3 separate regions of the Homo sapiens genome follow, and all the other regions are linked to region 1. Evidence: fine-mapped expression QTL. A gene starts in region 1. Each other region holds a variant in brackets. All regions are shown on one strand. Distances are between the middles of the regions.

The links. PIP is the estimated chance that this variant, and not a neighbour inherited with it, causes the effect. A credible set is the group of variants that fine-mapping cannot tell apart.
Region 2: its variant is the best candidate, but not a certain one, in a credible set for the expression of UBE2O in lymphoblastoid cells (GTEx, PIP 0.64).
Region 3: its variant is the best candidate, but not a certain one, in a credible set for the expression of UBE2O in whole blood (GTEx, PIP 0.65).

What each region holds. Positions count from the first base shown.
Region 1 is chr17:76,448,497-76,459,034 of GRCh38, reverse strand. UBE2O (ubiquitin conjugating enzyme E2 O) reads left to right here and starts at 5,883. Exons shown (of 18, transcript NM_022066.4): 1 at 5,883-6,310. The coding sequence starts at 5,894. It also overlaps a transcript of AANAT not described here. RefSeq lists an enhancer at 337-416 and silencers at 5,709-5,877, 5,672-6,211, 6,332-6,531.
Region 2 is chr17:76,418,933-76,429,470 of GRCh38, reverse strand. The region is part of intron 1 of UBE2O (ubiquitin conjugating enzyme E2 O); the gene reads left to right. Among named protein-coding and RNA genes, the nearest start is that of UBE2O, 29 kb to the left of the region's middle. RefSeq lists enhancers at 5,935-6,434, 6,435-6,936. The variant A/C (reference allele first, on the strand shown) is at 4,164.
Region 3 is chr17:76,386,710-76,397,247 of GRCh38, reverse strand. UBE2O (ubiquitin conjugating enzyme E2 O) reads left to right here. Exons shown (of 18, transcript NM_022066.4): 14 at 427-1,120; 15 at 1,387-1,523; 16 at 5,135-5,338; 17 at 5,435-5,492; 18 at 5,635-7,792. The coding sequence ends at 6,305. It overlaps SPHK1 (sphingosine kinase 1), which reads right to left. Exons shown (of 6, transcript NM_001142601.2): 6 at 9,393-10,442. The coding sequence ends at 9,662. Among named protein-coding and RNA genes, the nearest start is that of SPHK1, 7.4 kb to the right of the region's middle. RefSeq lists a silencer at 6,338-6,512. The variant G/A (reference allele first, on the strand shown) is at 4,348.

The sequences.
Region 1 (10,538 bases):
GGGCACCTGTGCAAGGAGCAGGTGAGGCTCCAGGAATGAGAAGGGCCGTTTTAACTCCAAAAGCCTTGAGCGGCATTCAGCTGGAGCCTCGGAGGCATTTCTTCAGCCAGCCACATGAGGGTGTGGGGGGTTTCCCAAGGCAGCTCACCTCCCACCCCACCCCCCAGCTGAAGTCCCCAGTGCCTAAGGCACCCTAGCCTTCCCAAACACCTGCTCCAGGGTGGAAGGAGCTCTTTGGGCCAGGCTGAAATCGCTTGCACAGCAATGGAGAGGCCAAGCAGGCTCCCGCAGAGGGCAGTGTTGGGCCTGAGCATACTTTGTGGGTCCAGAGAGGTGCTCCAGTGGCTGGTTAAGATAGGGACGAGACAGGGCCTGCTTCCCTGAGACCAGTTCACTCTGCTGCTGGCTCTGCCGCCTCCTGCACACCACCCACCCCACTTAGCAAGGGGAGAGGCCAGACCAGCTCAGTTTCTGGAAGCACATTTATAAATAAGTGAAATCCTCCCAAGAAATAGCTCTATTCCCCACGAAAGGCTGGGAGATGGGGCCATGATAAGAGAGGGTTTCTTCATTAGGGAATCAAGTTTTTTTCCTCCTTCCTACACCTCAACAATGACAAAAATAAAAACTAAGCAGCGGCTTCCATCCACACTTACCCTGCTAGCCAGCCTGAGTGTATGGAGACCGTGGCTGGGGGCTCAGGGTCTGGGAAGGAGTCAAGCCTCAAACCTTATCCAGAGCATCTTGGGTCTGAGTGAGGTCCATAAAAGACACCATCGGATGGGTAGGAATTTACTGAGTCTCATTCTCTAAAGCAGCTCAGATGCAGTTGAAACTGGGGGCACTTGAAAGGATTTGGAGCAGCCAAAGAGGGCAGCTCTGTCCCAGCTTCTTCAACTTTTGGTTGTTGGAAAAAGGATAGGAAACTGACAGAATGGAGGTACAGGTTCTCAGGCCTTTGATATCCGCTAACATGATAATTTTCTTTTTTTCTTTTTCAAGACGGAGTCTTGCTCTATCTCCCAGGCTGAAGTGCAGTGGCACAATCTCAGCTCACTGCAGCCTCCGCCTCCCGGGTTCAAGTGATTCTCCAGCCTCAGCCTCCTGAGTAGCTGGGATTTCAGGCGCCCGCCACCAAGCCTGGCTAATTTTTGTATATTTAGTAGAGATATGGTTTTGCCATGTTGGCCAGGTCTCAAGCTCCTGACCTCAGGTGATCCACCCACCTTGGCCTCCCAAAATGCTGGGATTACAGGCGTGAGCCACTGTATGGGCCTAGCCTAATACGACACATTATTGAGCTCCATCCCTATGCCAGGTACTGTCCTAGGCACCAGGGTTACACACACAAATACAACATGGTCCACATGCTTAAGGGTTTAGTCTAGTGAGGGAGAGATCAGCATGTAAAATCAAGGAGTCTTACCTCCAACCTGGCAGTATCCTGATAATCTATGTAAAGCACTTAGTAGAGTATCTGGCATGAAGTTACAGCTCAATAAGTGATAGCTATTATTAGCCATTATTACAAGAAGCCGCAGAATAAACACAACACGTCTTCCAGGAGTGCCGATATTACTCAATGATTAGGGAGGAAAGGGCATTAGTTTTTACATTAAAACAACAAACATAGGCATACTCTGGAGTACAATGCAAAACTCACTTGATTTTTTGACAACAAAAGCAGATTTGAGGCCGGGTGCGGTGGCTTATGCCTGTAATCCCAACACTTTGGGAGGGCAAGGCGGGTGGATCATTTGAGGTCAGGAGTTCGAGACCAGCCTGGCCAACATGGTAAACCCCGTCTCTACTAAAAATACAAAAATTAGCCAGCCGTGGTGGTGGGCGCCTGTAATCCCAGCTACTCAGGAGGCTGAGGCAGGAGAATCGCTGGAACCTGGGAGACGGAGGTTGCAGTGAGTCAAGATCACGCTACTGCACTCCAGCATGGGCGACAGAGTGAGACCCTGCCATGAAACAAAAAGCAGATTTGAGGTCTGCACTGCCTTATCCCGCCGTGGGACACATAGACACATGGACTCCCCTGTGCAATCAGGAGTTCTTCTGAGGGAAGCCTAAAGAAATAGCATAACTACAAAAGCCCCTGCCCTTAGAGTGGGGAAACTCCTCAGGTTACTACCTGTTACCTTAGGCGCCAAATTCCTTGGGCCCTATTTCTTCATTGGTAAAATGAGGTTAAAAACTCTCTATATCCAAGATTGTGATAACAGACAAGATAATGTGCTTGGAAGTACCTGGTACAATGCCTGGTCAATAATATGTGCTTAATAAATGCTATGTTATCAGGGGGCAAGAAAACAGGGCTGAAAGGGTCATGGGAGGCAGAACAGAAGCTACTATGTTACTGCTGTTTAATCTCCCAGGTCTCTACAGGAGAGGGAGTAGGGACCTGCGTCCTTACAGCAGTGATTCCAGATGGTCATTTGGCATTGTGTTCTGGGATGGGAAGGCCATGGTTTGAGAACCCAGCCTTGCCCCAAAATCATATCCTAACTCCCCCTTCAGCTGATTCAGCCCATTTGTTCTATATCTTAGTAGATAAATTTTCTAAGATTTGGGTCCATTGACAACCACCCTGATCCCAATATTACATCAATACTCTATTAGTACTTGGCCTAAGACATCTTAAGTACTTAGGCTGCCATCTGTTTTGTGCATGTTCTTTTTTTTTTTTTTTTTCCTGAGATGGAGTTTTGCTCTTGTTGCCCATGCTGGAGTTCAATGGCTCGATCTTGGCTCACCACAACCTCCACCTCCCGGGTTCAAGTGATTCTCCTGCCTCAGCCTCCTGAGTAGCTGGGATTACAGGCATGGGCTACCATGCCTGGCTAATTTTGTATTTTTAGTAGAGATGGGGTTTCTCCATGTTGGTTAGGCTGGTCTTGAACTCCTCACCTCAAGTGATCCGCCTGCCTCAGCCTCCCAAAGTGCTGGGATTACAGGCGTGAGCCACCGTGCCCGACCTTGTGCATGTTCTTTTAACTTTTCTCTCTCTTTTTTTGAGACGCAGTCTCGCTCTGTCGCCCAGGCTGGAGTGCAGTGATGTGTTCTTGGCTCACTGTAACCTCCTGCTCCCGGGTTCAAGCGATTCTCCTGCATCAGCCTCCCGAGTAGCTGGGACTACAAGCATGCGCCACTACACCTGGCTAATTTTGTGTTTTTAGCAGAGACGGGGTTTCACCATGTTGGCCAGGGTGCTCTTGAACTCCTGACTTCAAATGATCCATCTGCCTTGGCCTCCCAAAGTGCTGGGATTACAGATGTGAGCCACCACACCCAACCAACTTTTCTATGAACATAGTTCTGTATCTTCAGGATCCTGTAAACAACACAAAGAGCTGGGATTCTGCCTTCTTTGAAGAACCTAAATACTGTAATATCCAACTTACTAGTCTTTCGTTGATGATCGTGTAGAAAAATGTGGAAAAAATGATGTTGACTGAGAAAGGTTAGGGCCAGATCTTGTTTTCCTTAACAATCCATTTAAATCTGTCCTCTGAGAATGTATCTAAACCCTTTGAAACTTAGGTGACACATTAAATTAGAGTTAGTTTTTTTCTTTTGAGATAGAGTCTCACTCTGTCACCCAAGCTGGAGTGCAGTGGTGTGATCTAGGCTCACTGCAACCTCCAACCCCCAGGTTCAAGTGGTTCTCGTGTCTCAGCCTCCCAAGTAGCTGGAATTACAGGCGCCTGCCACCTTGCCCAGCTAATTTTGGATTTTTAGTAGACATGGGGTTTTGCCATGTTGGCCAGGCTAGTTTTGAACTCCTGACCTCAACTGATCCACCCACCTTGGCATCCCAAAGTGTTGGGATTTCAGGCGCAGTCAAAGTGTTGGGATTTCAGGCGTGAGCCACTGTGCCCGGCCTAGAGTTACTTTTTTTTGAGACGGAATCTCACTCTGTCGCCCAGGCTGGAGTGCAGCGGCGCGATCTAGGCTCACTACAACCTCCACTCCCCAGGTTCAAGTGATTCTCCTGCCTCAGCCTTCCGAGTAGCTGGGATTACAGGCGGCTGCCACCGCGCCCGGCTAATTTTTGTATTTTTAGTAGAGACAGGGTTTCACCATCTTGGCCAGGCTGGTCTTGAACTCCTGACCTCGGGTCTCCCACCCGCCTCGGTCTCCCAAAGTGCTGGGATTACAGGCAAGAGCCACCACATCCAGCCTTTTTTTTGTTTTTTGTTTTTTGAGACAGAGTCCTGCTCTGTTGCCAAGGCTGGAGTGTAGTGGCATGATCTCGGCTCACTGCAACTTCTGCCTCCCAGATTCAAGCAATTCTCCTGCCTCAGCCTCCCAAGTAGCTGGGACTACAGGTGCACACCACCACGCCCAGCTAATTTTTGTACTTTTAGTAGAGAAGGGATTTCGCCATGTTGGCCAGGGCGGTCTTGAACTCCTGACCTCAGGTGATCAGGTGATCCATCTGCTTCTGCCTCCCAAAGTGCTGGGATTACAGGCATGAGCCACCACGCCTGGCCCTAGAGTTACTTTTTATATTTTATTTATTTTTATTTATTTATTTTTTTGAGACAGAGTCTTGCTCTGTTGCCCAGGGTGGAGTGCAGTGGCGCGATCTGGGCTCACTGCAACCTCAGCCTCCCAGGTTCAAGCGATTTGCCTGCCTCAGCCTCCTGAGTAGCTGGGACTACAGCCATGTGCCACCACGCCCAGCTATTTTTTTTTTTTTTCCGTATTTTTAGTAGAGATGGGGTTTCGCCATGTTGGCCAGGATGGTCTCAATCTCTTGACCTCGTGATCCGCCCACCTCAGCCTCCCAAAGTACTGGGATGACAGGTGTGAGCTGCCGCGCCCGGCCTACTTTTTATATTTTAAAATGACAATATGGAGCAGACCATAACAGTTCTGCCAGTCTGGAATTTAGTCTAGGCAGGGAGTTTGGAAATAGTACAACAATGGTTAAGCTTATCGAAGGAGCTAAATGCCAGGCACTGTTCTACTTCACTTAATCCTCCAATTGCCCAATGAGATGAGTATTGCTATTATCATCCCTATTTCACAGATGAGCAAATTAAGATGAAAATAAGTTAATCAGTGTGCCTATTTTTATAGATTAGTAAGTGGCAGTGCCAAAAATTGGAATCCGTGGTCCCCACTCTTAGCTACCTTACTATACTACCTCTTGCCATTCATTCTTGGCTTCAGGGAGCTTTGAATTTATCTGCATGGATTTGTAGCCAAACCACTGGGACCACTGATCCTTTTGTTACCTTTCTCTGGGCCTCCTTCACCAGCTTCTGGGTCAACTTCTGAGGGGTCATGACGTTCGAACTGCTTGGAATTCCTGAATACAGTGCATTATACATATGCTCTACACGTATCTATTATAGCCTTACAAGTTGGAGTTGTTTGTTATCTATTTAATGTGTATTTGTTTTGTCTCCCCAACTAGACTGGAAACACCTAGAGGACAGGGACAGTATCTTTCTCTTTCTGCAATGCTCCCAGTGCCTGGGGGCTAGGCTAGGACGCCAAGGGAGCTCATTAAAAGTTGTTGACAGTCTCTCCACCATCCTGTGCCCCACCCCGACCACTCCCCTCTTCCTCGGTGGCCACTCCACTTCCTCCTCCCGGGTCCCCGCCCCTTCTCGCTCCCTTTAGTTGAATCCTCACTGGTCTCGCCCCTTCTTAGTGGATTCCATCCTGCCCCCGCCCCCCGCGGCATCTTCAGCGTCCCCTAGCGACGAGGCGGTGGCTCCTAGCAACTGCATCCCGGCTCCCTGACGACGGCGCCACGCAGGGACACGTCAGCGCGCTATGGCCCCGCCCCCGGCGCCCGCTGGTCCCGCCTCCCCGCGCCTCGTTCGCCGCCGCTGTCGCCGCCGCCGCCCGAGACTCGCGCAGAGCAGTTATGGCGGATCCCGCAGCCCCCACGCCCGCAGCTCCCGCTCCAGCCCAGGCCCCGGCTCCAGCCCCGGAGGCAGTCCCGGCCCCAGCCGCAGCCCCCGTCCCGGCGCCGGCGCCCGCCTCGGACTCGGCCTCCGGGCCGTCCTCGGACTCCGGCCCAGAAGCCGGCTCGCAGCGCCTGCTGTTTTCTCACGACCTGGTGTCGGGCCGTTACCGTGGCTCCGTGCACTTCGGGCTGGTGCGCCTCATCCACGGCGAGGACTCGGACTCGGAGGGCGAGGAGGAGGGCCGCGGGAGCTCGGGGTGCTCCGAGGCCGGGGGCGCGGGCCACGAGGAGGGCCGGGCCAGCCCCCTGCGCCGCGGCTACGTGCGCGTCCAGTGGTACCCGGAGGGCGTCAAGCAGCATGTGAAGGAGACCAAGGTGCGGCGGGCGGGGGCTGGGCGGCGCGGGCGGCAGGGGGTCGGCGGCCGGGCCGAGGCCAGGGAAGGACGGCGTGCAGGGCCCTGCCCGGAGCGGTGCCACTGCAGTGGCCGACGCGGGAGGACAGCCCCAGTGGAGGGTACACTCCATGCAAAGTCATTGCAGCAGCTCTGGGCGCACACGCCAGCCAGGCACTGCTGGCCCGGGACCGGGCGGGCCCTGGGCTTCCCGACTTGAGGGGACTTCTAAGACATGTTATGCTGTGGTGTCGGCCTCGAGATTTAGAGACGTGGACCGACTCCCGTGGGGACTCAGGTTCTGGGGCGCGTTCGGCGTTACACCAGTGCGGCGTTTTGCTGACCCCCAAGGAGCTCGGTACTGCATTGTGCATCCAGAAATGAAGGCCGTGCCGGGTCCGTGCAGGGAGGGGTTGTGGGCATTCCAAAACAAAGATAGAGGTGAAAATCCCAGCCGAACCCAAGAAGTTCACTAGCTTACAGGCTGCATTATGGTGAAGCCACCCAGCCTCTTTTTGTTTTACCCTGCTGCCTCCTTTTAATTGCTGCAGGGAACTTTGTGAGTAAAATCATTAGCAATCAGAGCCCCGGTATGAATAGTACTTGGGGGGGAGGATTCTGACAGCTGCGACCGGGATTGATGACTCCTAAGTGCATATGGACTCCTTGAAAAAAATAATCCAGAACCCTGGGTAGAGGGGAGTCACCAATTTGGAAACCCGAAGGTTTTTTCTTGACCTGAAGCTGTTAAGCAGACATCTGACTCCCGTATGGTTTTTGGGGTGATGCTAGTGAGTATAGCAGTTTTACAAAACAAAGAGGCTTGTCATCATAAACCCGAAACCTTGAACCCGGGTTGGTTTGGTGGCTTGTTTTCCAGAATGTGAATTCCTATCAGTAATTGACACACACACACACACACACACACCCCCCTGTATCTCACACCCCTTCTTTCTCTCCTACTTCCCCTCCCCTTCAAGAAAACATTTCTAAGCAGGAATCAGGCCTACGCTGTTTTAGGTCCTTGGGAGGTTGAGAGGTCTGATTTCAGGGGAGGGCACTTTGGAAGTTGATCTGGGTTTCTCACACAGTGGGAGACAAAGACTACAGAGGAACGGGGTTTCATGTCAAACTACAAAGCGGGGTCTGTGACAACGGCTTGAGAAGGAAAAAGGCCCCACTCCAGAGAAGAGCACATGATCCATTTCCTAGAGGCAGAAGTGACTGCTGATACCAGCGGGGTCTTTTTGTTGGGGATGCACATACATCCACAGACACAAATCCACACACAGGACCCTGCTTCCCCTCAGAGAAATGTGAATCAGGCAACAGCTCTGAGACTTGGAAGGAAAATTATCAGTCCATTTACAAGAGTATTTGGAAAATATTACTTTTGTGCAACAGAATGCTTGTTAAAAATTACCCAGTATTGTGTCAGTAAAAGAGGGTTATTGCTGTATACTGTGTGACACCAGATGATTGCTGGTGTCTTTCTGTGAGTTTTTAAGAATGTTTTTCACCACCCATCTATTTGAGAGATTCGTGATTTTTGGAACGCAACTCATTTGACTGCAGCATCCTCTGTGTTGTGGCCTCCTGCCCTAGGACTCAGGGAGGTAGGCCCAGCTCACTACTGGGAGCCGCTATGTTTATCAGTTGTTGTTCCCGTCCGTCTTGACTTTGGTGGTTAACTTTGTTTGCAGTTATGCTCCGTTTGCCTCCTGCACTATGTGTAATTATACAGAGTTTGACTTGAAATACCTATTTTGGAGTTAAATCGAAAACAACGGCCGGGTGTGGTAGCTCATGCCTGTAATCCCAGCACTTGGGAGGCCGAGGCGGGCGGATCACCTGAGGTCAGGAGTTCGAGACCAGCCTGACCAACATGGAGAAACCCTGTCTCTACTAAAAATACAAAATTAGCTGGGCTTGGTGGCGCATGCCTGTAACCTGAGCTACTCGGGAGGCTGAGGCGGGAGAATTGCTTGAACCAGGGAGGCGGAGGTTGCGGTGAGCTGAGATGGCACCATTGCACTCCAACCTGGGCAGCAAGAGTTAAACTCTGTCTCAAAAGAAAAGAAAAAAAAAACAACAACTTTGAGGCACCACTTTGGATAGATTTTGCAGCTGGCCTCCTGTGACTTGCTTTGAATTTGTTGAAATCCGTTTTGTGGCTCGGTGGTGGTATTTTGTCATTGTAGCATCTGGGTTTAGCAAAAGCCAAGGGACGCAGAAATTCCAAGGAAGTGGTGGAATGGGATGCCCATTTATGGGTGGCAAGATATAGTTCTTTTAGGATTTAGAATAGGTTTGTTTTGGAGGGTGGAGTTTATACCTGATAGGTAGCTCTGTTACCATGAGCTATAGATACAGGTGACTGATTAGCTGAATGTCTCCTGGTCTGTTACTGACCACCAAGCAGGGTGGTAGGGTGGGTCCTGGGACCTTGCAGAACTGTGGCTTAGGATGATTTTTCTTCTCACCTCCTGCTCCTTATGAATTCCATCAAGGTGATAGTATGCCGTAAAGGAAAGACCATTAGACCAAGATTGACTAATCTAGTTATGAGATTTGAGAACCCAATTATTGACAAAATAATGTAGTGGCAGATTTTTTTTTTTTTTTGAGTTACTGGTTTGTTTATTATTTTTGGGATGGGGTCTCACTGTTACTCAGGTGTCCTTGAATTCCTGGTCTCACACAATCCTCCTGCCTCAGCCTCCCAGGTAGCTGGGACTACAGTAGTGATGGTTTTGAGAAACTTATTTTTTATTTATTTATGTTTTTGAGACGGAGTTTTGCTCTTGTTGCCCAGGCTGGAGTGCAATGGCGCCAGCTCGGCTCACCGCAACCTCTGCCTCCCGGGTTCAAGCGATTCTCCTACCTCAGCCTCCCGAGTAGCTGGGATTACAGGCATACGCCATCACGCCCGGCTAATTTTTTGTATTTTTAGTGGAGACGGGGTTTCTCCGTGGTGGCCAGGCTGTTCTTGAACTCCTGACCTCAGGTGATCCGCCCGCCTCGGCCTCCCAAAGTGCTGGGATTACAGGCAGGAGCCACCGCACCCGCCCGAAACTTATTTTTTTTAATAAGCTGCTACCTATTGAAAATTTTTGTGTGTGAGTTTCTTTTTTAAACAGAGTCTCTCTCTGTCACCCAGGCTGGAGTGCAGTGGCACGATCTCAGCTCATTACAACCTCAACTTCCCGGGTTCAAGTGATTCTTGTGCCTCAGCCTCCCGCATAGCTGGGATTATGGGCATGCGCCATCACACCCAGCTAATTTTTGTATTTTTAGTAGAGACGGCAGTTTGCCATTTTGGCCAGGCTGGTCTTGAACTTCTGGCCTCAAGTGATTCACCGGCCTTGGCCTCCCCAAGTGCTGGAATTACAGGCATAAGCCACAGTGCCTTGCCCCATTGAAATTTTTTAGTAGTATCTATTTAATGTGGAGTGTTTCATAGGGTGTGGCGTATTTTTGTAGTTTTCTCTGTAAATTGGAGGGCAATGAGTAAAGGCTTAATCTTAGTCTCAAGTTTTTAGTGAACAAATTTACAAAGAGAGATGAAGAGACTGGGCAGCAAGTCATGTCCTTTCCCTGCTGCCTTCATGAAAATAGCAACAGAAACAAAGTAAGTTCTTCCATGAAGCTATGGAATTTGTCGTGTTCCTGAGGCTTCCAGCCACCAAAATTAAGCCTCTTAAGGACTCAAAAGGAGCTAGTGGCCAGTGTCTCTTATATGCTTCTTCCTTTCTCCAGTCTTCTGACCTGTTCAGCGAGGTAGCCACTTGAAACTGTCCATCTGGCCATGGATCTCCTTAGAGGAGGCTTGCCCCTTCCCCATCACCAGTCATCCTTTGAATAAAATTTTGTAACAAAGCCAAATGCCAGCAGCCACTTAAACCTTCATGAGCACTGGCTAGACGTGGTGGGTCCTTCTGGTCTCCACCTGTCATGGTTGGGCAGAACAGCCCCCTGCGAGGTAAGGGAGCAGGACTGCTGTCTGTCAGTTCAAGTTCAGCCTTCGTTTCGGAGGCAAAGCGTTTATGCTTTAGCTTTCTTGTGCTTTTTCATCTCTTTTGCATTGTCTTTTGTTTTAAGTTGCCATGACATTCAGGGTTTCACCAGGTTTGAGATATAGTGCCTCTAAATTAGGGCTGTCTGTGATCACCCTGCTTTTATGAAGCTGTGTGTGTGAAACATCCCTGATG
Region 2 (10,538 bases), 30 kb after region 1:
TCCCAGGCTGAAGCACTTCTCCCACCTCAGCCTCCCAAGTAGCTGGGATTACAGCCATGCGCCACCACTCCTGGCTAATTTGTGTGTTTTTTGTCAAGATGGGGTTTTGCCATGTTGCCTAGGCAGGTTTCAAACTCCTGAGCTCAAGTGATCTGCCCACCTCAGCCTCACAAAGTGCTGGGATCACAGGCATGAGCCACCATCCCCAGCCCAACTTTTTATTTTGAAATAATTATAGATGCATAGGAAGTTGCAAACATAGTAGAGGGCTGGCTGGACGCGGTGGCTCATGCCTGTAATCCCAGCACTTTGGGAGGCCGAGGCGGGCAGATCACGAGGTCAGGAGTTCGAGACCAGCCTGGCCAACATGGTTAAACCCCGTCTCTACTAAAAATACAAAAATTAGCCGGGCATGGTGGCATGCGCCCGTAATCCCAGCTACTCGGGAGGCTGAGGCAGGAGAATTGCTTGAACCCAGGAGGCAGAGGTTGCAGTGAACCAAGATCATGCCACTGCACTCCAGCCTGGGCGACAGAGCAAGACTCCATCTCAAAAAAAAAAAAAAAAATAGTAGAGGGGTCCCCTCTACCCTTCATGCAGTTTCCCTTGATGGTCATGTCTTATATAATCACAGACAATATGAAAATCAGGGAATTGACATGGGTACACAATATGTGCATACAGTTTCACACCCTTTATCACATCTGTGGATTCATGTAACCACATGTAACAGCAGTCAAGATACACAACTCTTCCATCACCACAAAGATCTCTTATTGCCTCACTTTTAAATAGGAATGGATGCCAAGAATAACTGGATATGTTCAGAAAGCTTCCAGTATGGAAGGTAGAGGCCAGAGAAAGCAAAGAGAAAAATGTATCTCCGAGGAATCAGAGCTGATTCAGGTAGGAGAAAGCCTTAAAGCACATGGCAAATATACTCAGAAAGAAGAGCCAATATTTTATCCATGAAATAAAAAGTTACTATAAAAATCAGAACAAGAAAGAGTTCTCGGAAATTAAAACCATTACTTTTTCTTTGAAGTTGACGAAGGCTCCCAGGAAACAGATTAAAAACGTCTGACATCTAGGAAGTCTATAAAGAGAGAAAGGGAAAATTAAGGACCATAATGTATCAGAGAAACAAGAATTATTTCAGAATGGACAGTCATAAGTTTCAAAAATGGTAAATGGAAAATGTCCTGTGGCACATTGTGTGATTCCAGAGCACTGGGCATAAAGCTTCCGAAGAGCAAAAACGGGTCACATACAAAAGACTGGGAATGAAGATGGATTGGATTTTTCAACCTCATTGGAAGCCAGAAGACAATGGGGTGGATTTCCTGTTTCAGTGACATGGTAGCTTGAGCTAAAGTTAGAACCGCTCCCATTACAATCACTTAAAATGCTATATAAGCTATAACAACAGAATAAGAAAGAAAAACAGAGAACCGAAAGCAAAGCAGGAATATAAAGCCAGAGCAGAGTAGGCAGCTCTGGGGAGGGGCAAGGTGGGTTCATTGGACCCTGAAATCGACCCTAACAATAATAGAGGTTTGGATTTGCATGAACACGTGAAGCATGGAGTTGAAACAGAAATCCCCTCAAAAGAGCCATTCCCAGGTAAAAGGGATGCAAGAAAATTTCCCCCATGGGATCAGAGAAATGTCAAGGGAGCTGATCATTGCCCCACACTCTGGATTGTGTTGGAGGAAGTCTTCTGTGAACAGTGGAAAACATCCAAGTTCTAAGTCTGTGTTTATAACATCTACATGTTGCAGGAATGCCCGAGCTGGCACCAGACCAGCCAGCAGACTGGCGATACCCCTGAAGCTTCTTGCTTGCAGAACAAAGGCAGAACTTTTCTAGAGTGACCCTTGCACAGTACAGGCCTTTTGGAATCCTAGGATGCCCACAGATGATGAGCTTGTTCTAGGAAATTACCAAGCATGTAGAAATTAGAACATGAGTCAGCGATCACAACAAACACAAGATTCTCAACATGAGAATTCAAATAATAGAAGAGATTATAATAGAAATGTCTAAAGTGATTGAAGGGCTAAAAGAAGAAATAGATGTCAAAGGAAAGAATAAGACAGAATACATCTTAAAAGGGATTATTTTTTAAAGAATCAAATAAAGCCTCTAGAGTGAAAACATTGAGTTAAAACCCCAGTGGAAATGTTAAACAGCAAATAGCATAAATTCTCAAGAGAGAACTATGGGAACTGGAAAACAGATCTGCAGAAGTTAGTTAGAATTCTGCAGAGATAAAAGAGATGCTTGTGAGGAAGAGACATTACAAACATGGATGGTGGTATGAGGGCCCAGTGGGAAAAATAGCATCCTAAAGGCAGCTTGAGAAGAAAGGCAGATTACTCCCCAGGTTCAACAGTGAAACTCAGGAAATGCCAAGTAGCAACAGTAGAGGCCATAAGGAAGTAAAATCTTCAGTGTGCTAAGGAAAATCAGTTGTTGGCTTAGTTTTCAGCAACCAGCTTAAATTATCGTTCAATAATGGGAACAAATAAGGACATTTTCACAGAAAAAAAAAAAAGTTGTATTTACTAAGAGACCTTCGCTGTACTTCGGGAAGAAGGAAGTAAGGAGAAAGGAGAAATGCGGACAGTAATGGTATCCAGAGGCGTTGGGAAGTGCAGGTAAATCTGAATAAGCATTCGCTTCTGAAAGTGATCGTCACTAATTTGGAGAGGATTAAAAACCAAAGTCCCAACAAAAAATGGAAATCAGTGAGGGGGTGATTTGAATGAACACACTCTTAAGTTCTTTGAACTGTTTGGGAAGTGTAGGAGGGATATTGATTGACTTCAAACTTTCTGAGTCAAGTAGACATGTTCCAATTTTAAGGGTAACCACCAAAAGAATAGAAATAGTGTTTAAAGCTTTCAAACTCACAGAGGGTAAAAATATGGAATTTTAAAACTAGGTCATTTGTCTAAAAGAAAGAGAGCAAAGAAAAAATATGGTAGCCAGAAAGCCCTAAAGGTAGTAGAAATAAATCCACATGGATCACAATGAAAGTAAACAATTATATGTGCCAGTTAAGACAGGTACTCAGACTGGAAGACAGCAGAGCAAATCCTGCAACATTCTGAGAGAATTCCGTATCCAGCCCAACTACGTCAAGTAGAGTAGAAAAAAGTTCTTTTGGCTGGGCATGGTGGTTCACGCCTGTAATCCCAGCACTTTGGGAAGCCAAGACAGGAGGATCGCTTGAGCCCCGTTCGAGACCAGCCTGGGAAACATGGCAAAACCCTGTCTCTACAAAAAAATACAAAAATTAGCCAAGTGTGGTGTTGTGCATCTGTAGTCCCAGCTACTCAGGAGGCTGAAGTAAGAGGATCATTTGAGCCCAGGAGGTTGAGGCTGCAGTGAACCATGATCACACCACTACACTCCAGCCTAGGTGACAGAGTGAGACCCTCCTTTTAGGCATGTAAGGGCTGGAAAAAAAGTGCCTCCTGTGAACCTCTTGTGGGGAGGAGATAGAAGGAGTTGTTCTTCACCAAAACCAGGGACTTTTCCCAGGATCCAGGAAACGGGATCTGACACAGGTGAGCGGCAGAGGAAAGTCTGAGTTAGAGAGACAGGATGGAATTCTGCAGGAGGGAGAGAGATCGACAAGAAAAAGACACAAAGCCCAAAGATACCTGATCGATAATTTGTAGGTAATTTGAAGATATTTAGAAAAGTTATGGATAGGTATTTGACAAAAGTATCAATATGTACATAGTTGTGTGAGGACACGGAACACCACTTGGTTCAGCTGTGAGCTCTGTCCTCCATCATAACACATTTAGATTTTTCAATTAATGCAGTGGAACTGTTGAAAGGATGGAGTACAGGCAAAGGGCTTCAGAGGGGAGGGTAAGAGTTAGGTCATCAGGTACCAAAACAGGACGTCAATAGATAATGTCTATAATAAGTTAGGAATTAGGGTGCAAGCATGTTGTTTATATGTATGGAGGTAAATATTCAAACAGCTAAAAAATTAAAAAGTATTTGCTTCAAAAGAGCACAGTTGAGAGGGTAAGATGGGGGACTGCCTGTTTTTGTTAAGCCTTTTAGTACTATGTTTTTTTTTTAACTTAGGCATGCATTGTTTTGATACAATTAAGCTAAACTATTATTTAAAAAAATAC[A/C]ATATGAGCCAAGTAGGTCCTTTAAAATTTTTTAGTGACCACATTTTTTTCTTTTACTTTTTTTTTTTTTTTTTTTTTTTTTGTCGAAAGGACCTTGAGAAGTGACCACATTTTAAAAACATTAAAAGAAACAGGTGAACCGGGTGCGGTGGCTCACGCCTGTAATCCCAGCACTTCAGGAGGCCCAGACGGGTGGATCACGAGGTCAGGAGATCGAGACCATCCTGGCTAACATGGTCAAATCCCGTCTCTACTAAAAATACAAAAAAGTTAGCTGGGCGTGGTGGCGGGTGCCTGTAGTCCCAGCTACTCGGGAGGCTGAGGCAGGAGAATGGCATGAACCTGGGAGGCGGAGCTTGCAGTGAGCTGAGATCGCGCCACTGCACTCCAGCCTGGGTGACAGGGTGAGGGCGAGACTCTGTCTCAAAAAAAAAAAATAAAAAATAAAAAAAAAAAAAGAAACAGGTGAAATTAATTTTGGAGGTAGAGGTGGATGGAGTCTTGCTCTGTTGCCCGGGCTGGAGTGCAGTGGCTCGATCATAGCTCATTGTAACCTCAAACACCTGGCTTAAGGGATCCTGCTGCCATTTTTTTATGTAGAGATAGGGTCTTACTCTGTTGCCCAGGCTGGTCTTGAACTCCTGGCCTCAAGCAATCCTCCCACCTTGGCTTCCCAAAGTGCTGGAATTACAGACATGAGCCACCTCACTCAGCCAGAAATTAATTTTAATGTTTTATTTAACTCAGTATATATCCAAGATACCATTTCAGAATGTAACGAATATAAAAAATACTAGTGGGCTGGGCACGGTGGTTCACGCCTGTAATCCCAGCACTTTGGGAGGCTGAGGTGGGCGAATCACGTGAGGTCAGGAGTTCGAGACCAGCCTGGCCAATATGGTGAAACCCTGTCTCTACAAAAATACAAAAAATTAGCAGAGTGTGGTGGCTCACACTTGTAATCCCAGCTACTGGGGAGGCTGAGACAGGAGAATCGCTTGAACCTGGGAGACAGAGGTTGCAGTGAGCCTAGGTTGTGCCATTGCACTCCAGGCTGGGCAACAAAAGTTAAATTCTGTCTCAAAAAAAAAAAAAAAAAAGGCCGGGCGCGGTGGCTCACGCCTGTAATCCCAGCACTTTGGGAGGCCGAGACGGACGGATCACAAGGTCAGGAGATCGAGACCATCCTGGCTAACATGGTGAAACCCCGTCTCTACTAAAAATACAAAAAAATTAGCTGGGCATGGTGGCGGGGGCCTGTAGTCCCAGCTACTCAGGAGGCTGAGGCAGGAGAACGGCGTGAACTTGGGAGGTGGAGCTTGCAGTGAGCCAAGATCGCGCCGCTGCACTAGCACTACAGCCTGGGTGACAGAGCGAGACTCCGTCTCAAAAAAAAAAAAAAAAAAAAAAAGAACCCAACCTGGAAGTAGCTGAGAGCCACCTGGTGTGAAGAGAGGAAGTCTCCTCTCCTGTGTTCTGGTTCCTTTGCGGACACTGTGCCGTAGGCCACCTCTATCAATTATGTCCTGGGCCTGAATCTTCAGGCTCTCCCTTGGCAGCTTCCTGCCTGACCTTATTTTTTATTTATTTATTTATTTATTTATTTATTTATTTTGAGATGGAGTGTCCCTCTGTCACCCAGGCTGGAGTGCAGTGTTGTGATCTCGGCTCACTGCAAGCTCCGCCTCCCAGGTTCAAGCGATTTTCCTGCCTCAGCCCCCCAAGTAGCTGGGACTATAGGTACGTGCCACCATGCCTGGCTAATTTTTTGTATTTTTAGTAGAGACTGGGTTTCACCATGTTAGCCAGGATGGTCTTGATCTTCTGACCTCATGATCCTCCCACCTCGGCCTCCCGAAGTGCTGGGATTACAGGCATGAGCCACCACGCCGGGCCCTCATTTTTATTTTTACTGTATTTATTTTTTAGAGATAGGGTCTTACTCTTGTCACCCAGGCTGGAGTGCATTGGCACAATCAGGGCTCACTGCAGCGTCGAATTCCTGGGCTTAAGCAATCCTCCCACCTCAGCCTCTTGAGTAGCTGGGGCTCCAGGTGCGTACCACCGTGCCCAGCTTGACCCCATTTTTAATGTCTTGAAAAGAGACCCTTCCTCAGCCCACATCCACCCCCTCACCTACCTCTTCCTCCTTTTCCTGCTCTTCAGCCGTAGTTCCTGAATGAGCTCCATGCTGTGATTCCTGTTTCCTGCATTGCCAGATGTTCTCCAGGCCCCGCCATTGGGGATTCTGCCCACGCCACCCATTGGGACTGCTGAGCCCAGGTCAGCAGGGACACTTCCCCGTGGCACTGGATCTCTCAGCAGCATCAGGCATTGCTAGCCACTCCTTTCTTGACACTTGTTCCCAATTCCCATGGCTTTTCCTTCAGCTGTCTCTAGTGACTCCTCAGAGGCACCCTTCTGTGTTCCAGGCACTTGCTGGGGTGCACTGGTGCCCAGTGCCTGCCCTTGTGTGGTTCACATTCTAACCCCCATGGGGCACACAGACTGCAGGTGTGGGAACAGTAAGTGCTGTGAAGAAAAATAAAGCAGGTGGATAGAGAATGAGGAGGAGCAATTCCAGACAGGGTGGCCAGAGAAGCCCTTCTGAGGAGGTGACATCTGAGCAGAAACTTGGGTGCAGCTATCTGGGGGAACATTTGAGCCATGGCTGTTCCCTGTGGTGGCCACACCTCCCCAAGCCTGGCGTGCCTCGGCTTCATTGCAGATGGAACCTCCGTCCTGCTCGGACACCTGCAGGACTGTCTCGTGTTCCAGATGTTTCATTGGCATCTGGCACAGCGTCTGCCCACCCAGTGGTTATTCAGTTTGCTGAATGGGCGAGGGAACAACTGAATGGATGGTCTACAGCATATGATGAACGGGAGGAAGAGGCCACTGGGTGCCCAGACCTTATGACAGAGCAGGTTGTGTCTGTGTCAAGCCCTTGCTGGAGGAGAGATGGGACTTGAGCTCAGCCTGGGAAAAGCCAGGTTAAAGTGAGCCGCCCTTTGCCCATGCCCTCTCCCCGTGTTGTTCATTTAGGTCGTGCTTCCACACATCATCTTCCCTTTCAGGACCACTCAGGCTGTGAATGAGTGGAGTGACTGAAATAGTTGGGAGCCATTGAGGAAAAGCCGGAGAGAGAGGCCACGAGAACTAGCATTTTGGGGTTACTTAGCACACGTCCCATTACTTATCACACATAGAGGTCTCAAAAACATCACCACAGGCCTGCCTGACCCTCCTGTGGCTTGGTTGTCCCTTAAAGGAAGGACACAGCAGATCCTTTGAGACATCTCCATCTTCCCATTTTCCTCCACCTGGGATTTGTGGTCCTTGAGCACTCTGGATGCAGATCCATTGGAGAGGGGATGGGTCCTCAGATGCAGTCTGGTGGCGTCATCTTGTCTTTTCCAGACTCCTGGCCAGCGACTTGTTGACTTCCTCCTGGGACCCAGTGACTGAGGGAAATAGAGCCAGCCAGGATGGGAGAAATGGGAAGCACGTGGCATTTACTCCATGAAAGAAAGGCCACAAGCCCTTCTCAGCCAGCAGTCCCAAGGCATCAGTTACCAGTTGTAATGGATCTCAAATGGTGCTAATTACTCCATCCCTGGGAAAATAGAAAATAGTCACTCAGGGCCGGGCGTGGTGGCTCACGCCTGTAATCCTAGCACCTTGGGAGGCCAAGGTGGGCGGATCACCTGAGGTCGGAAGTTCAAGACCAGCCTGACCAACATGGAGAAACCCCATCTCTACTAAAAATACAAAATTAGTTGGGCGTGGTGGCACATGCCTGTAATCCCAGCTACTTGTGAGGCTGAGGCAGGACAATCGCTTGAACCGGGGAAGCAGGCTATGGTGTGCCGAGATCACGCCATTGCACTCCAGCCTGGGCAACAAGAGCGAAACTCCGTCTCAAAAAAAAAAAGACAAAAGAAAATAGTCACTCAAATTATGTTCCATGCTCTAGTGTCTTTAATGTGGGTGACTCCAGTGTTTCAGTATCTGGAAGAATGGTGACCATGTGGTGTCAGCCATGAGCGCTGACAGCAGGCCGTCACTTCTTTCTGCAGTGTTTCCCTACGGTTGGGCTCAGCTCTAGGGAGCTCACTGTAGCTGTGAGTTTCCCATTTCCTGTCAGAGGAGCAACGGCCTTTTGGAGCGAAGTCTGCAGTACTGATGGACTGCACCCACTTAGCAAATGGGTGGTGCTGAGTCCTGTTCACTTTCCCATCCATGCCTTTTACCAGGAACTCAGCCCAAATACATGCTGCTATGTGTTTGTATTTATTTTTGTTGGAAATCTTGGCTTAGAAAGCAGACTACCTGATCCTGTCCTGACCTAATTGCAGGGATGTGGGGGGCTGAAGAAAGGGAGGACTCCTACTGTCAAGGTTAGCATTTGGAAGTCTAGGGGGGTGAGTGACAAGGCCGTCCCTGCCAACTCACTGGGGTCAGCCTGTCTCGGGCTTTCTGTGGCCACAGACATAAACAGTGTGTGGCAGGCCGATTTTGAATGCTGGCAGGACCAACACCTGGTGGTGCAAGACCCCAGCTTGCACTCGATCCCAGGACGTCTTGTGTCTCTTCCTCCTTGGCTTCCCATGCCTTTATCAAGCTCCTGCTTCTCTGTGAAAAAGAAATGTCTGCAGCGCCCCAGCCCAGTTTGTCTCGCAAAGATGTAGTTACAGAGTTGTAAGGAGTGGAGAATCATCATTGTTTTGACATAGTCATTCCAGGGTGGGTCATGAAACCTGCCAGTGCCTCTAGTGTAGGTTCTCCTGGCCTGCATGTAGGGTTGCTCGGTGGTGTGTTTGGGTAAAGATGTGGGCGAGTCTGTAACATTTCTGGCCACTGGGATTGATCTAAAATCACAGGTATTAGGAAAACAAAACGATGCAGGAAGCCAGGACCACTGTGGGAAGATAGGCCCCCCTGCACTTCCATAGCCCCCTGCTCCTCCATAGCCCCCTGCTCCCACTTCAGTGGGAACTTGGCCCCCGGGGAAACAACTGGCCTTGGATCAGGGCTCTTGTGTGTTATTTTTACTGCCTTTTCCTACCATATTTGCATTTTTAAAAATAGCACTGCTGAGTGGCTCCTTTTCAGCATGAGTCTGCCTAGGAAGGTACGGTGCATTTTCAGAGTGTGGCTGTTGATTAGCAGCCAAGGCTTGGCATTTGGGGGAGTGTGGTGCGAAGGGGGCCACTGCTGCGCTGGGTAGGGGTGAGGCTCCGGATCATGAGCTGTGGCAGGAGTGAGGCAGCAGCTTTCTGCTGCCCCAAGGTTATGTCATGCTTCTGTGCATTCGCAGTTGCAGGGAGGTGATGAAGGAGGGGCAGGGAGCACCAGGGTCCCGAGGGCCATGGCCGAGGAATGGGGCCAAGCAGGCATGCCTCCTTCTGCCGGCATGCTTCTTTCTCAGACTCTGAGGTTTCCGCGTGGGTAGAGCCACGCTTTCACACCAGCTCGCTCCCTTCTAGTCACAGCTCTGAGCATCGGGTTCTCAGGGCCACAGCATGGCCTTCCTGCCTGGAAGTCTTCAAGGTGGCGAAACCATGTCCACCAGGTTCCCAAGGATGCGTGCTGGCGGGATCTGCTCTTTGCCACTGTGACAGCAACTGGCCCGGGGCCTTGTTCTTGTCAGCATGGAAACTGGCCCAGGCTGGGATCTGGACCACCTGAGCAGAGGTGGGTCAAGGTTGGGGCCATATCAGTTTGAGGACCTGGTGCCTCTGTGTCTTTCCCAAGGGCTGGACCACAGGAAGGGTGTGTCAGGGAGTGCCGAAGGGTGGGCATCAGTCAACTCTCGCTTTCTTAGTTATTTTCAGTCACCTTGCTTTTACGCCTTGATCCCTGGATTTAACTTAAAATGTTTTTTCTATTTTTTTCTTCATTACACCCCCATATCAGCAGTAAACTTAAAAACTTTTTTTAATTAAAGACAAATATTCCTAAGTAGTCAGAGTATATTTTGTTTCAGGAGAAAGGGATTTTTTTTTTTTTTTTTTTTTTTTTGAGATAGGGTCTTACTCTGTCACCCAGGCCAGAGTGCAGTGGTGCGATCGTGGCTCACTGCAGCCTTGACCCCCTGGGCTCAAGTGATCCTCTCACCAGAGCCCCCCAAGTAGCTGAGACCATGAGCATGAGCCACCAGGCCTAATTTAAAAAAAAAAAATCTGTAGAGATAGGGTCTCACTAGGTTGCCCAGGCTGGTTCTCGAACTCCTGGGCTTAAGTGATTCTCAAAGCTCAGCCTCTCAAAGTACTGGTATTACAGCGCGAGTCACCGTGGCAGTCAGAAGTTGAACTGTTTTAACTATCAGATTCACCTAGGGAACATTAATCTCTCCACCCAGAAATTTATTCA
Region 3 (10,538 bases), 62 kb after region 1:
GCAGGATATGTCGGCCCTTCTACATGTCCCCTCTTGTCATATGTTCCCAGCTCCCCACACAGGCCTCCTTGGCTGCATCATTAGCTGACCCTGCGCTTTTCAGGTGTGGGACTGGGCCTGCCAAGGTCCCCTAACGCCTTGGACAGATGCTGACGAAGTGCACAGAGCAGGAGGAGAGGCTGGAACAGACCACTGGCTGGGGCTTTGGGTCCAGCTGGAGGGTGGGACAGGTGAAGGGCCTCTCCCAGAGACCTAGGGACTGCAAAAGCCAGAGCAGAGGTCAGGGAAAGGGTGGAATGAGGTTGCCAAGGCCTCATGAGCCCAGTCGCCATCAGCTGTGCGGATCAGGGATCCCCAGAGCTCCTCCTTAGTGGTGGGGAGGTGACTTCCTGTCTGCTTACCCTGGCACTTCCCTTCTGCCCCCAGCACTTGTACAACATAGAGTCTGAGATTGAGGAGTCAGACTACGATTCGGTAGAAGGCAGCACCAGCGGGGCATCCTCGGATGAATGGGAAGATGATAGTGACAGCTGGGAGACGGACAATGGGCTGGTGGAGGACGAGCACCCCAAGATAGAGGAGCCCCCCATCCCACCCCTGGAGCAGCCGGTGGCCCCTGAGGACAAGGGAGTGGTGATCAGTGAAGAGGCAGCCACAGCTGCCGTCCAGGGGGCTGTGGCCATGGCTGCCCCCATGGCCGGGCTGATGGAGAAGGCTGGCAAGGACGGGCCACCCAAGAGCTTCCGGGAGTTGAAAGAGGCCATCAAGATCCTGGAGAGCCTCAAGAACATGACTGTGGAGCAGCTGCTGACGGGCTCGCCCACCTCTCCGACTGTGGAGCCTGAGAAGCCAACTCGGGAGAAGAAGTTTCTGGATGACATCAAGAAGCTACAGGAAAACCTCAAGAAGACCCTGGACAATGTGGCCATTGTAGAGGAGGAGAAGATGGAAGCAGTGCCCGACGTAGAGCGCAAGGAGGACAAGCCCGAGGGGCAGTCACCTGTGAAGGCTGAGTGGCCCAGCGAAACCCCGGTGCTGTGCCAGCAGTGTGGCGGCAAGCCTGGCGTCACCTTCACCAGCGCCAAGGGCGAGGTCTTCTCCGTACTGGAGTTTGCACCCTGTGAGTCAGCCCTTGCCTGGTCTTCGCCTTCCCCCGCCTTCTCGGGGCTCCTGTTTGTGTCACCAGATCTGGGTGCAGGGTGGTTAGTCCCCTCGCCAGACCCCAGCTACTGCCCCAGGGCAAACCATTTCCCTGTGTGGTCACAGTGCTGAGGCCAGCAGCGGCGAGTGGGAAGTCTGTGGGTGTGCTCACCTGTCCAGCCAGGTTGGCAGATGGAGCTCCAGGGCCTCTCCATGAGGGACTGACTATTCTCTTCCCCCCTCTAGCAAATCATTCTTTTAAGAAAATTGAGTTCCAGCCTCCAGAAGCCAAGAAGTTCTTCAGCACAGTGCGGAAGGAGATGGCGCTGCTGGCTACCTCACTGCCTGAGGGCATCATGGTCAAGACTTTTGAAGATAGAATGGCAAGTAGGCTTGGCATGGGCAGGTGCAGATGTGCTGTGTGGGCACCCAGTGCCCAAGAGGCCACCAACCTTGGGTCCCCAAACCTCCGGGGCTGACTGGCACCTGCGAGGACACTCACCCACCCACCTTTTACAGGGGCGGTCACAGGCTCAGTCAGGTGAGGGCTGACTCAGCCGTGTGTCCAGGCCAGATGGTTCTTTCTTTCCTCCCTCCTTTAAAAAATTACTTTCTCGGCCGGGCGCAGTGGCTCACACCCGTAATCCCAGCACTTTGGGAGGCCGAGGTGGGTGGATCACGAGGTCAGGAGATCGAGACCATCCTGGCTAACACAGTGAAACCCCGTCTCCACTAAAAAAAAAAAAAAAATTACAAAAAACTCTCCCGCCACCATGCGGGCGCCTGTAGTCCCAGCTACTCTGGAGGCTGAGGCAGGAGAATGGCGTGAACCTGGGAGGTGGAGCTTGCAGTGAGCCGAGATCACGCCACTGCACTCCAGCCTGGGTGACAGAGCGAGATTCTGTCTCAAAAAAAAAAATTACTTTGAAATAGGCCGGGTGCGGTGGCTCACGACTGTAATCCCAGCACTTCGGGAAGCCGAGGCAGGTGGATCACCTGAGGTCAGAAGTTTGAGACCAGCCTGACCAACCCGGTGAAACCCTGTCTCTACTAAAAATACAAAAATTAGCCGGATGTGGTGGCGGGTGCCAGTAATCCCAGCTACTCGGGAGACTGAGGCAGGAGAATCACTTGAACCTGGGAGGCAGAGGTTGTAGTGAGCCAAGATCGCACCATTGCACTCCAGCCTGGGCAACAGAGCGAGACTTCATCTCAAAAAAAAAAAAATTACTTTGAAATTAATTATATTATGATTACTCCTCAAGCCTACTTTTCTTTTTGAAAAATTAGAACATTACAGATCCTTTGAGTGGAAATGGAAGAGCTAAAGTTGCCTTTGACCAGACCTCACTTCCCTTTCTCCCCGAATCATAGGCCTCTTCCCACACCCAGAGGATTGTTGGAAGTTTAGTGGGTCTCCTTCCAAACGGATGACCTTTTTTTTATACTTTTACATTATTTATACACTAAAAAAATATTTTTACATTTTCATGTATCACCATAAGTACATAATATTTTGTATGATTTGTTTACACACAGAATATGTCGTCGTACACATCATCTCTAATTTGCTTAAGACCAACCTGTGTTGATTCATAATGATCTAGTTTCTTCCTTTTTACCTGCAAAATAGGATGACAGCATGTGGCCACACCACATTCCATTTTCCCACTCCTCTGTTCGTGGACGGGGCCTAGTGTCTCTGAGTCATGTTTACTGAGGCAGCGCTGAGTGCATCCTTCCGGAACAGGCAAGCCCGTTTGCCTGCCACCTTGTTGACTCCGCAGTCCCTTACTGGGCCTGTGCATCGAGCCAAGCACTATGCTAGACTCTGAATCTGAGTCTGAGGCCCCAGTTCTGGCCCTGTCCTGGAAGGAAGGGAGTAAGAAAAGAAAGAGCAGGGATCCTGAGAGCAGCCAAGCGATCCTGAGAGCAGCCAAGCGGGATGCTGTTGAGATGGGCCCGGAGTAGCCACAACCCTGGAACAGGGCTAGGCAGAGTCCTAAGGCCCAGTGCTGCTTGAGATTCTTAATAACGCTTTTGGTTTTTTCTTGGGTTGTAGGAAAATTCCTTTTGAAAATTCTAGCCTGTCTCAGCTCTGCTGAGGGAAGATGGAAACAGTATTTTTTGTTTTGTTCTGTTTTCCCCACATCTCACTCAGGAGAAGAAAAGTAGTGCATTCCCTGGAGGCTCCCAGGGTGGCACCGATAAGAGCATGTGCAGAGGTTCCCTCGCCCCAGCTAGCGCTCTGCCTTCCCTGCTTCTCAGCTCATCACTGACCTCGCCCATTGCCCTGTCAGTTGAGATCCCACACACACGCGTGTGTGCACAGATGCACGCAAATAGATGCACAGATTCCAGATGTCTGTGGAGCGGTGGTCTCCCAACCTCCCCCATGGAGTTCAAACCCTCACTGTCAGCTTCTGGTTGTGAGACCATCCCCCCTTCCCCAGGCCTCACCAGCCTGGAACTGCCTTTCAGCTTGAAACTGCTTGTACTACTTGCCTTGTTGGGGATAAGGGTTGGAGCAGGTGTTTAGAGGAATTGTTTTGTTTTGTTTTTAAAAGACAGGGTTGGCCGGGCGTGGTGGCTCACGCCTGTAATCCCAGCACTTTGGGAGGCCAAGGTGGGCGGATCACAAGGTCAGGAGTTCGAGACCAGCCTGACCAACATGGTGAAACCCCGTCTCTATTAAAATACAAAAAATTAGCCGGGCGTGAGGAGACTGAAGCAGAGAATCGCTTGAACCTGGGAGGCAGAGGTTGCAGTGAGCCAAGATCACACCACTGCACTCCAGCCTGGGGACAGAGCTATACTCCATCTCAAAAAAACACATAAGCCAAAAAATAAAAGACAGGGTCTCACTCTGTCGCCCAGGCTGGAGTGCAGTGGTGTGATCATAGCTCACTGCAGCCTCAGCCTCCTGGAGTCAAGTGATCCTCCCATCTAAGCTTTTTGAGTAGCTGGGACTGTAGGTATGCACCACCATGCCCAGCTAATTTTTTATTTTTTGTAGAGATAGGGTCCCACTATGTTGCCCAGGTTGGTTTTGACCTCCTGGCCTCAAGCAGTCCTCCCACCTTGGCCTCCCAAAAGTGCTGGGATTACAGGTGTGAGCCATCACGTCTGGCTGAGGAATACAATCTTTTTTTTTTTTTGAGATAGCGTCGCACTGTCACCCAGGCTAGAGTTCAATGGCACAATCTC[G/A]GCTCACTGCAACCTCCGCCTCCGGGTTGAAGCAATTCTCCCACCTCAGCCTCCCGAGTAGCTGGGACTGCAGGCATGCATCACCACGCCTGGCTAATTTTTGTATTTTTAGTAGAGACGGGGTTTCACCACGTTGGCCAGACTGCTCTTGAACTCCTGACCTTAAGTGATCCACCCGTCTCGGCCTCCCAAAGTGCTGGGATTACAGGCACGAACCACCGCGCCCAGCTGGAATACAGTCTTAAAGTAATGATTTATGAGGAAAAACACCTGATAAGATAAAAACTCACTTCGAGTATTTCTCTTAGCCAGGGTTCAATGATTCCAGGCAAGGGCCAGGCACAGTGACGGCTCAGGGCTGTAAACCCAGCACTTTGGGAGGCCGAGGCAGGCGGATCACTTGAGCCCAGGAGTTCGAGACCAACCTAGGCAACATAGTGAAACCCTGTCTGTACACAAAATAAAAAAATCATCTGGGCACGGTGGCCCACACTGTAGTCCCGGCTACTTGGGAGGCTGCAGTGAGCCATTATTGCACTAGTGTACTCCAGCCTGGGGGACACAGCAAGACCCTGTCTCAAAAAAAAAAGATTCCAGGCTGTTCTGCAGAGAGAGATTTGTCCTTAGCTTCTCCACTGCTGGTGGCATCTGGAGTCCCAGGTGCTGCTCTTCCTGCGTGATCTGCACAGTGTCCTGGGAAAGAGCAGGTGCAGATGCAGATGCCACATGTAGGACACCCCCTTCCACCCCTGCCAACCTTGGCCTCCCTCCCTCCCTCCCTACCTAGGACCTCTTCTCAGCTCTCATCAAGGGCCCCACTCGAACCCCCTACGAGGATGGCCTCTACTTGTTTGACATCCAGCTCCCCAACATCTACCCAGCCGTGCCCCCCCACTTCTGCTACCTCTCCCAATGCAGTGGCCGCCTGAACCCCAACCTGTATGACAATGGGAAGGTGTGTGTCAGCCTCCTGGGCACCTGGATTGGAAAGGTGAGTATAGGGCCAGGCCCCCAGCCAAGAAGGAGGAAGAGCCACTGGTGGATAGGGGCCTGGGGAACAGAATTGATGGTGCCCTGTGTGTTTCAGGGGACAGAGAGGTGGACAAGCAAGTCCAGCCTTCTCCAGGTGCTCATCTCCATCCAAGGTACAGTTGGGCTGAAGCGGGGGTGCGGACAAGGGAGGGCCGGTGGAGGAAAGTGACTCTGATAGTCCCCCTGGCAGGTGGAGGGTAGGCCTGCATTGTGGGCCTCTCTCACCCACTGAGGGAAGGTGTCCCGCCCACACAGGTCTGATCCTGGTAAATGAACCATACTACAACGAAGCCGGCTTCGACAGTGACCGAGGCCTGCAGGAAGGCTATGAAAACAGTCGCTGTTACAATGAGATGGCGCTGATCCGCGTGGTGCAGTCCATGACCCAGCTGGTGCGGCGGCCCCCCGAGGTCTTTGAGCAGGAGATCAGGCAACACTTTAGCACTGGTGGCTGGCGGCTGGTGAACCGTATCGAGTCCTGGCTGGAAACCCATGCCCTGCTGGAGAAGGCCCAGGCACTGCCCAACGGGGTGCCCAAGGCCAGCAGCTCGCCAGAGCCCCCAGCTGTAGCCGAGCTGTCAGACTCCGGCCAACAAGAACCTGAGGATGGAGGGCCAGCCCCAGGAGAGGCCTCCCAGGGCTCAGACTCAGAGGGCGGTGCCCAGGGCCTGGCCTCAGCTAGCAGGGACCACACAGACCAGACTTCGGAGACCGCACCAGACGCATCGGTGCCACCCAGTGTGAAACCAAAGAAGCGGAGAAAGAGCTACCGGAGCTTCTTACCTGAGAAGAGTGGCTACCCTGACATCGGCTTCCCCCTCTTCCCACTTTCCAAGGGTTTCATCAAGAGCATCCGGGGTGTCCTGACGCAGTTCCGGGCTGCCCTGCTAGAGGCAGGCATGCCGGAGTGCACAGAGGACAAGTAGCTGCCAGGCACAGAGGAAAGAGCATCACCGTGGGAGAGGCCAGCCGCCGCCTGCTCACTCCCCCCCGGAATCACCCCTCTTCCCATGCCCCTCTGTCCCCACTGCAAACCCACTGCCCTCTTCTCCCCAAGGTGAGTTTGATGCTGAAGTGCAAGAAGTGTGTTGAGATGCTGCCGTTTCTATTTTGAAGCGAGCTTTCAACAGGCGGGTCCCCTGTGGCAAAGAAAATCGGAACCCTGTTGCCGATTTTCCATTTGTCACCCCAGCAGAATGTCCGGCACTTGCTCCCTTGCTGCCCCTTCTCAGGTCAGAGGCGGGTGTTCCAGGGCCTGCCGCGGGGCTCTCTGGGCCGGTTCCCTGCAGACCCGCAGGAGAGCACATGTGCCTTGCATGAAGTGTGGGTTGCGCCAACAATTCCCCTGGTCCCTTTCAACCTGTTTAGTTCAACTCAAGCCTCCCTGTGTCCCAGACCCTCCTGCTGCCACCACCACCCAGGTCCTCCCTAGTCCTCCAGCGTCAACACTATCCCTTGGGAGTTGTAGCTGCTGTCACTGACTCCCGGCTATACATGGCCTGTCGACCACGTTATAGCCCTCAGGCCTGTTGAACTTGCTCTCTAAGAGAGGTTGGGACCAGGCTAGGTTCCGGGTGACGCCCAGGAGAGGTGGTGGCCTTCACACATGCACATGGAGTTGAGGACCAGGGAGCTGCAGGGAAAGCAACAGCTATAGGTGCCTTGCTCTTCTGTCGGAGGCTGCTGGGGGCAAGAGCAGCTGCACAAGGCCAGGGCAAGTGCTAGGGCCCCTCCCCCATCACATGGTCACACTGGGACAGGCGTGCAGCTCACTGAACTCCAAGCGAGCCAGCCCTCTCTTGGACTAGAAGGCCTACTGTCAGCCCTTCGCTTACAAACTGCAGGCTCAATCCGAAGGGGACGGCCGGCGGGGGCTCTCCTAGTGCCCAGAGACAGGCCCAGAGGTTTACAAGTTTTCTAAGCTTTTGATAATGTGAAGCTCCAGGCCGAGAGGATGCTGTTGAGCACATTGCAGCTATGTAATTTTTGGTGTATGTATGTAATATTTAAGGTTGGAAAAAAAACTCAAAAGCAAAGATATTAACTCTTATTAGAAAAAAAGACAAAAAAAAAGCCAAAGCATGATGCGTCTTGTCAGCCTTAAGTGGGCTCCACACCTGTGCTGTGCTGTGACCGCCCAGCCAGCAGAGCTGCGGGAGGATGGAGCCGGACCACACACCGTGGCATTTGGAACCGAGTCGGTATCTTGTTTGAGAAACACCCGGAGTGACTGGTGGGGCTGTGCTTCCCAGTGCATTGTACATGTGGAGATGTGAATGCCTACTGCTTACGATATCTGTATAAAGTGCTGTGTGATTAAACTTTTTTTTACTTGCATTTTTTTTTTTTTTTTTTTTTGTGTTGGCTCATTAGCAAGACAAGGTGACACCATTAAACCTCCCTCTGCCATTCATCTGGGCTCCGTTGCCTTTGTGTCCCTCACACACACCCTTCCTGGGGAAGGAAAGACCTTGTTTGTTGCCAGGGAAGGCATGTGGCAGTGGGTCCTGGCTTTCCTGGCCAGGTGGGGGCCACTGTGAACAGCACCCCCACCCGCCCACACTGCCCTCTGCCTGCCAGACCTGCTTGCATGCCTTTTGTACTTCTTGTCCTGGAGCAGTCCTCTGGCCTCCTCCTGGCCGGTGGTGTGCCCCTCAGGAGCCAGCTTAGAGCAGCCTCCCAGCAGCTGTAGTCTCCAGAGACCTACAACTGACCAGTTCAGCTCCTTCCAGGTTCTGGGAGAGCCGACGTCATAGCACCTGGCGGTGGACAGGTGCCACAACTCCTGGACGCTAAGCCAAAATGGTTGCCCAGTTTAGACTTGGATGGATCCTTCCCTGCCACATTCTTTCCACTCCTGCCTGGCACTCCTCCACAGGGACAGGTAGGGAAAGGAGACAGCTGAGGGAGGCTGGGAGAACCCTAGAACCCTAGACCATTGTGGTGGATGACAGACTCCTTTTAAAAAGGTAAGATACCAGGTGTGGTGGCTCATGACTGTAATCCCAGCACTTTGGGAGGCAGAGGCGGGCAGATGACTTGAGGTCAGGGGTTTGGGATCAGCCTGGCCAACATGGTGAAACCCCATCTCTACTAAAACTACAAAAATTAGCTGGGCATGGTGGCATGCACCTGTAATCCCAGCTACTCAGGAGGCTGAGCACAAGAATCACTTGAACCCGGGAGGTAGAGGTTGCAGTGAGCCAAAAAAAAAAAAAAAAAAAAAAAGCAAGATATTGCCATTTTTTACTTCTGAGGTCTCCTGCTCCTTGCCAATTTTTTTGGGGGGGGGCGGGGGCGGTGGCCAGTGGTTTTATTGTTTTTGTTTTTGAGACATTCTCACTCTGTCTCACCCAGCCAGGCTGGGGTGCAATGGCGCGATCTCGGCTCACTGCAGCCTCAACCTCCCGGGCTCAAGCGATTCTCCTGCCTCAGCCTCCCAAGTAGCTGGGACTACAGGTGTCCGCCACCACACCCTGCTAATGTTTGCACATTTTGTAGAGATGAGATTTTACCATGTTGCCCAGGCTGGTCTCAAACTTCTGGGCTCAAGTGATCCACCCACCTCAGCCTCCCAAAGTGCTGGGATTACAGGTGTGAGCCACCACGCCTGGCCCATCAGTTTTCTAATGCCCTTAACTCAGATATTTCCCCTTTCCTGCTAAATCCACATGGGGCTCTGATGAGATTTGCTGGGACTAGCTGCTTGTGTGGCCCTGGCTGAGACATGCCAGCTCCGAGCTGCATCCTGTGTGTGGTCAGGCAGCTGGCTGAGCTCTGAGGCTGCTTCAGGTTGGAGGTGCTATAATTATCAGGGTGGTAGAGGCCCCCCCACCATTAGGCTGAACCAGCTCTGGTCCTGAGTCCCCCACCAGAATGACTATGCCTGGGGCCAGTAAAATCCATTGCCCATCCCAGGGGGCACCATTGGCCATCATTACCATTAAATTCTATAGTCCCGGCCAGAACGAGAACCCATTCTCTCCCCAGTCACCAGGACAGGACGAGCAGGCTGGGAATGTCACTTTATTTGGATTTGGTTCGTGGGGTGGGGGTCTCAGAACAAACTAGAAGGCCTTACATAGGCAGCTGGGCCCAGCCAGCTGGGCTCCTGACCCAGGACTTCATTCTGGCCTGTCCCCCCAAAGCATAGCCTCCACCTTCTCACCCTTCTCCAGAGGAGTCTCCTCCACCCCCACAGGAGCTGTGGACAGGCCCTGCAGCCCTAGGGAAGGAGGAAGGGTCCTGCAAGTAGACACTAAGGCACAGCGCGGCCCAGGGGTCATAAGGGCTCTTCTGGCGGTGGCATCTGCTGGGGCTTCCAGCTGGGCGGGGGCTCCACGCAACCGCTGACCATCCAGAAGTAGTTTGGGTGCACCTGGCCCTGCACGGCCTCGCTAACCATCAATTCCCCATCCACTGCAAACACACCTTTCCCATCCTTGGGCTCCAAGCGGAAGGCGACCACGGGCACATATACCAAGTAGGGGCATTCATACTCCATATGCCTGCCCTTCTCCATGGCCAGGAAGAGGCGCAGCAGCATGGCACGAGACACTCCCGCCCGCACGTAGAACAGATGCATGACGCCAGCTGCACAGCGGCCCATGGGTGCAGCAAACATCTCACTGCCCAGGTGCGAGTGCAGCAGTGCCAGGACTAGCACAAAGTCCTCGTCGGGCACCACTGTCCAGTGAGAGGGCACTGGCTCCTCCAGTGGCACAAGGTGTGCATCTACCGGGCCCTGCTGGACCACAACGGGGGAGGCAGGTGTCTTGGAACCCACTCTTCCTACAGGGAGGTAGGCCAGTCGGCCGCGGTAGGTGCGCAGGGCTGCCAGACGCAGGAAGGTGCCCAGAGTGAAGCGCATCTCCCCCAGACGCCGATACTTCTCACTCTCTAGGTCCACATCAGCAATGAAGCCCCAGGCCAGGCTGAGCACAGAGAAGAGGCGCAGCCCCGAAGCCGTGTGCAGAGACAGCAGGTTCATGGGTGACAGCAGCCGGCGGCACAGCAATAGCGTGCAGTTGGTCAGGAGGTCTTCATTGGTGACCTGCTCATAGCTGCAGGGGGAAAAAGTCAGATAAGGCAGGACAGGAGCCCCCATGTATCCCCCGCTTCCTCCTCCCGGGGAGTGGGAGCTGGCAAAGCGCCATGTG